Homo sapiens: one gene and its partner. The protein of the gene in region 2 interacts with the protein of the main gene of each other region in a pairwise test. Each region holds a gene or a part of one and is shown on either strand. Other genes may lie near its edges.

Region 1 (2,714 bases), on a different chromosome or scaffold from region 2:
TCTAATGCCTCCTCCTCCACAGATGGGCTGACCCTGGGGGCCCAGCACCTGGAGGCAGGCGGCTCCCTCACCCGGCATGTGACCCAGGAGTTTGTGAGCCGGACACTGACCACCAGCGGAACCCTTAGCACCCACATGGACCAACAGTTCTTCCAAACTTGACCGCACCCTGCCCCACCCCCGCCACGTCCCACTAGGCGTCCTCCCGACTCCTCTCCCGGAGCCTCCTCAGCTACTCCATCCTTGCACCCCTGGGGGCCCAGCCCACCCGCATGCACAGAGCAGGGGCTAGGTGTCTCCTGGGAGGCATGAAGGGGGCAAGGTCCGTCCTCTGTGGGCCCAAACCTATTTGTAACCAAAGAGCTGGGAGCAGCACAAGGACCCAGCCTTTGTTCTGCACTTAATAAATGGTTTTGCTACTGCTAGGCCCTGCCTTGCCCATTCTTCTGGGGCCTGAGAGGTGCTCCCCTAGGGTAGGGGAGCGGTTCTGACATCCCCCATTCTCTGACACCCAAGCATACACCCACCTCTAGAGGAGGCAGGTACCACATTGGAGGCACAAGTTTATTGAGCACCCGGATATGGAAGATGGCACCGGGCACAGAGCCGTGGGACTGGCCTGCAGGCCCCGCACCCTCACCGTGTGCTGTCCTGGGGGTGCCTCACAAGCACAGCACCTTGGCTCCATCGGCTGCTTGAGAGAGGTAGAAGGTGGCAGTCCCGCCGTAGTGCTCCTGTAAGAGGCGGGCTGGGGGTGAGTGGCAGGGCCCCGGGAAGCTGCCGCTCCTGCCCGCCCAGGCCCTGGTGCCCGCCCACCTGGATGTGCCGCATGGCGTGGGGAGCAGCGGAGGCCTCCAGCAGTGTCACCGTGCAGCCACCGAAGCCACCGCCCGTCATGCGGCTGCCATAAACCCCAGGCACAGCAAGCGCAGCCTCCACCAGCTGGTCCAGCTCTGGGCAGCTCACCTCATAGTCGTCTCTGCAGAGAGGATATTGAAGGGGTGGGCCTGGGCCGGCCTGTGCCCGGCAGGAGCGGGGCGCCCAGAGGGCCTCACCTGAGTGAGCGGTGGCTCTCCACCATGAGGCGGCCAAAGGCTCTGTAGTCGCCACGTCTCAGGGCGGCCGCTGCCTGGGCCGTGCGCCGAATCTCCCCCACCACGTGCCGGGCCCGCCGGAAGCCCTCTTTGCTCACCAGGTCCCTGGCAGCTGGGGAGGAAAGAGGAGTCAGCAGCCGCCTTCTCACTGCCTGGGGCCCCGACGCCTGTGAGGACCAGCAGGCGGTGATGGCAGTGGCCCTGGCTGGACGGTGAAGGGTGGAAGGCCGCGGGGGCAGGGCAGCCTGGCTCTCTCAGACGTGGGTCTGAAGAGCCCCTTTATCACAGTGCCTCCTCCCCCGACTGTAAAATGGGACACCTTGGTCCTTCAGGGAGCAGTGAGGGTTGAAACACTCCATGCTTTCCAAGGTGAGTGCTGCCCTCAAGAGGCCACCACAGAGCAGGAGGAGAAGAAGTTCTGCTGAGCCACATGGAGCCTCCAGGGCTGGGGCTCCAGAAGAGGGGGCAGAAGCAGCCAGGGACCAGCAGGCTGTCCCATCTGACTGGAGCTGAGGCTGGAGGGGTACCTGGGTCAGTACCAGTACTGACTCAGTGTACTGCGCCCGGCCAAACCCGCAGGTTTAAGGGGGAAGGTTGTTAGGGTAGGTGGCATGGCGGGATGGAGGGGCAAGTAGATTCAAAGGACTGAGAAATGAATGGGTGGGCGCGGTGGCTCACACCTGTAATCCCAGCACTTTGGGAAGCTGAGGCAGGCAGATTGCCTGAGGTCAGGAGCTCGAGACCAGCCTGGCCAACATGGCGAAACCCCGTCTCTACTAAAAATACAAAAGTTAGCCGGGCATCGTGGCAGGCGCCTGTAATCGCAGCTACTCAGGAGGCTGAGGCAGGAGAATTGCTTGAACCTGGGAGGCGGAGGTTGCAGTGAGTGGAGATCATGCCACTGCACTTCAGCCTGGGTGACAGAGTGAGGCTCCCTCTCAAAAAAAAAGAAAGAAAGAAAGAAAGAAATGAATGGAAATGAGACAGTGGGTGGTGTTTTAGGAGGGAAGAAAACTGAGCATGTCTTGGAGGCTGAGGGAAGGAGCCAGGCAGCCAGGCAGGGGATGGAAGGAGAGGGATTGCGCTTCTAGGGCAGGACTCTGGAGGAGGCAGGGTGAGCTGCTCCTATGCAGAAGGAGACCTGGAGGAGGGGCAAGGACAGGCTGGGGTGGGGAGGAGGGACCAACTTGTTCCAGTGTGAAAACCTTGGCCAAGGGCATCTGCACAGAGCAGGCAGGGCAGGTCTGAGCACTGCTCTGGAGAACGTGACACAGTTCACAAAGGAAAAGGACAGGGAGGTCCCTCGGAGCTGTCTAGTGTCCCTGAGATAGGCACACCTACACTGCCAGGAAGGAACAACTCAGTGTGGGCAGCACGGCCAGCCAGTCAAGAGCATGGGCCCTGGAGCTAATCTGTCCAGATGGGGTTCAGATCCCAGCACTGCCTCTCACTGTAGATTCCCCCATCAAAAATATGACAACTATGGTAGCAGAATGTGCTTTACAGAGTTTTGGAGGGAATTAAATGAGCTAATATTGATAATGACCTTAAAACTGTCCAATAGACTACCTTCCTGGCCATGTGTAGCAGGAGCCTTAAGGATACTTGTATCTTTTTTGT
Region 2 (3,814 bases):
GGTTCTCAATAGTCAAGACCTCTCAAACTGGTGAGCTCTCCACGGGAACCTCAGGTAACAGACAATATGCAGTCTCACTTCTCTGGCTGCCCAGGGGACCTTGAGACTAATCTCAATCTGAAAGTACTCTGCGATAGTCCTACTTTCTAGGTCTTTCTACAAAGGTTCTACTAACCAGGTCTGTCTGTACAGCAAAGGTCAAGATGGACAGTGCAGAGGCTGTCCTGGCTTCTGAGTCTGCAAACTTGCTGTGCAATCATTCATCTGTAGGTGCTAAGACAAAACTGAGGTCCTCCCCAGGGATGGGTGGGAAGGAGCATTTGCTAGGGGATTATTCTCTATGGCAAGCACCATCTATACCTGCAAATCAATCTAGAAATGTATGTGAAGAATAATCTGCAATATATACACATGAATGCATTTCCCCATCTTCCAGCTATGTAAGGTAATATTACTCAGTGTTTATAAAGTGAAAATTATAAAGATGTTTGATAGAATATGAAAAAAACTGCTGTTGTAACCTTGACAGCTATTAGCTTAGTCAATTAATGAGGTGCTTATGATCTACTCTAAAATAAGTACAATAACCCATCATAAAAATCTCTTTAAACAAGCATCATTCAAAGGCCGACAGGTACCAAACTGCATGTTCCTAATTCATTCCTAGGAAATTAAACAGACTTAGTGATGGTGGTGGGAGGTGGACAGGTACCTAGGTGGGAAGGGGCGGGTCCGCAGTGAAACCCCACCTTCAAGCCAGGGACAGCCTGAAGCCTCAGGGCACAGATGCCAATTTCGTGTGAAGTCAGCGACCTGGAGTGAGAACTTCCTTGATGCCTTTCAACCAATCAAATGGTGCTTTTTCCAGGCCTGCCCATGGACCAATCAGCATGCACTTCCTCCATTCTGAGCCTATAAAAACCCCCAGACTCCGCCACTCATTGGGACTACCTGCCTGCAGAGAGGAGCAACACATTCCAGGTCTCCTATGGGCTGAGAGTTGTTCAGTCACCCAATAAAGCTCTTCTCAGCCTTGCTCACCCTCCGTTTGTCCACGTAACTTCATTTTTCCTGGATGTGGAACCTGCCCAATGGTGGGAGCGAAAGGAGCTGTAACACTTTCCCGGATGGCTCGCCCAGCTGCAGGTGGGAGTTAAAGGGGCTGCAACAAATTCCTGGCCAGCTCACCGAGCTACAGACAGTGACATGCCCCTGGACTGCAGGCGTGAAGAGTGGCAACCCTTCTGGGGGCCCAAACCTTGGGATTCCCTCAACTAAAGTTGTAACACTATAACCCTCCCAATTTCCACCAGCACCAGGCAGCTGCAACATGCAACAGGAAGCAGTGGTGGGGCTAGACCAGCCCAAGAGCTGCATGCTGGAGTGGGGCAGTGGGACTGAAGGAGATATAACACAAATGGGGTGAAACATACTCCCAGAAACAAGCCCCCCTGCTTGCTGTAATGCAGGTGATGAGAAGAAGAGAGCTGTGGCCCTTCTGGGAGCCCAGATGAGAACCAGGCTGTGACAGGCCGTAACACCCTCTTTGGGGCTCTGTGATTCCTGGTATCTCTGAGCTTTCACTCGTCACCACGTTCCCCTCGTCCACACGCTGGTGCCTGCAGCGGAAGCCAGCTACAGTGCATCTGGTCCAGCCACAGCCTTGCATGGAGCCAGCACCTGTGCCGGCACCTGGAGCTGCCTGCCCTGCTGCAACAGCTGACATGCCTGGCTGTGTGCAGAGGCTGGACTCCATGCTCACTCACTCACACACCCCTCGCTGCTCCATTCCTGGTTTGCCCTTGGCAGGCATGGGATCTGGGCTGGCAGTGCAAGCCGAATGCAGCCTGCTGGGCAGAATGGGTGGAACGAGGCTAGTGGGCACGAGCAAAACTCAAGCAGAGGCACTGCCAGCCCACAGAGGTTTCCAGCTGGTCAAGTGACACCCACAGGTGCTGTGACATTAGGACAGGTAATAGTCTCTTAACAGAAAGAATTTCACTTATATGTACTTTGTGGGAAAGGTTACAGAAACAGCTTAAAATACAAAGAAGAAAGATATGAGTCAGAGCTGCATGGAGCAGAAGACAGTTTGTTTACAACTTATTTTTTTCCCCCAGAATCTAGTACCTGGTACATGTTCAATAAACATCTTTTGAATGAAAGGTGTGGCAAATGTCATCTCAATGAATCTCGTACATTGTCAATTTATTTCAAAGGAGATAGAGATTACTTCTGAACTTGGTAAACAGCAACTTGACAACTCCCATTCCCACTAATACTGTAAGGGCAACAAGGTCAGCAGAGGGCCACTGACCTTGACAGGTTAGGGACCAAGGGCAACACCTGTGCAAGCTCCCTTCCCGCAGGAGGGTCGCCCACATGAGGGACCTCGCCGCTGCCCTTACCTCCTCCTTCTCCTTTTCTTCTGGGCCGGCTGCCACACCAATGTTCACCAGAAGGTCCTTGCTGCCCTCATCACCATGTGTGGCTTCCAGGGGATCCTGCAAGGACACAGGCCCTGGCTCTCTCTGAGCAGGCTCTTCTGCCCTTCCTTCACTTTCCTCTGAATTCGCGGACAGGGCACTGTGATTGCTGTGACAGCTGGCACTTCCTGCCCCGGGGCTCTGGGGGCTCTGAGGGCTCTGGGGCTTGGGTGTGGTGGGCCTTAGAGGGGTGGGAGGCTGCTCAGGGTCAAATGTCAACTGGCTGCCAGCGTTTGGGTCACAGGAGTCTTTGCTCAACACATCCTGGACAATCGGGCTTGGCAAAGAGCTGCAAGTGCAGGAACTGTCGCTTTCCACCGCCCAGGAACTTTTGGTTTCAAGAGGAAATACGGCAGTGTCAGCGTCTAGGTGGGGCCCCTTAGAGGTGGCTGAGCCGAAACCGGGGGCCACGGTGCAGGTTGCAGTGGTCCCATGCATGACCGCCCCGCCCCGCCTGCTGTCCTGCTCAGTGCTCCTGGAGACGCGGCGGGAGTAGTCGTCATGCAGCCGGCTGTGTGCCTGAAGTCTCAGGCTGGCCTCTCCAGGGGATGGGGCCCCACTCCTAGGACTCTCCCTCCTCCAGGCAGCCTCAGTCACATTGCTCACAAGTTTGAAGACTCTGTCAAAGTCCTTGGCCCTTATCGGGCTCCTCCAGCGTTTGGTCCTTCCTGACCCAAGCTTTTGGGAGTCAGTGGAGGAACTGCTCAGGGTCCTCTGTGGTACCCGTGCGTCATGGGCCGTCCTGAGGTCTGCAAGATTGGAGGTGGACTTCCGCTTAAAGGAGCTCTTCTTCAGAAAGGCAAGATTGTCCGTGCTCTTGCTCCTCCTGTAGCCCATGCTGTTGTTTTCAGGGTCCCTCACGAGAATCTCACACACGGCGGGCACCTGGCCAGTGGCTATCGTGGGTGTCGCATGGTTCTGGGGCGCATCCAGCAGGCAGATGCGGCCCAGGCCGTAGGCTCTGCGGAGGCTGCGGGAGCGGTGTGTGCTCCGCTGGAAGGCATCGTCCGTGTCCTCGAGGTCGGAGCCATCCAATGTGCCCCACTCTGCTGGCCTGAGGGCACCACATGCTGGTCCCGGTGCTAAGGGGGAGCCCCTGCTTGCCTGGGCTCCTGGGACAGCGCCATTTGGGATGGACTTTCCCAGGCCATGCTCCGAAGCCTCTCCCTTTGAACAGGCATTTGACCCCTCTCGGCTCTGAATTCCTTTCAGGACTGAGGACTTCAGTTTCTTAAAGGATCCCATTTTCCGGAAGGAGGCGAGGGTGTTCCATGTGGAGGAGTTCCCCACCAGGACCATGGAGTGGGGCCGCTCGGGGTGGGCACCCG

What was found.
Region 1: the proteins of SPATA13 (region 2) and GALK1 interact in a two-hybrid assay, tested with the Homo sapiens proteins (one large-scale study listed by BioGRID and IntAct).

Annotation. Positions count from the first base shown.
Region 1 is NC_000017.11:75,757,394-75,760,107, forward strand, and holds the end of GALK1 (galactokinase), read right to left. Parts: intron 1,207-2,714; coding exon 1,056-1,206; intron 980-1,055; coding exon 817-979; intron 735-816; coding exon 663-734; 3' UTR 501-662; downstream 1-500. Other genes in the region: ITGB4 (integrin beta-4), read left to right, coding at 23-162. UniProt on the Homo sapiens protein: Catalyzes the transfer of a phosphate from ATP to alpha-D-galactose and participates in the first committed step in the catabolism of galactose.
Region 2 is NC_000013.11:24,223,177-24,226,990, reverse strand, and holds part of SPATA13 (spermatogenesis-associated protein 13), read right to left. Parts: coding exon 2,409-3,814; intron 1-2,408. UniProt on the Homo sapiens protein: Acts as a guanine nucleotide exchange factor (GEF) for RHOA, RAC1 and CDC42 GTPases. Regulates cell migration and adhesion assembly and disassembly through a RAC1, PI3K, RHOA and AKT1-dependent mechanism.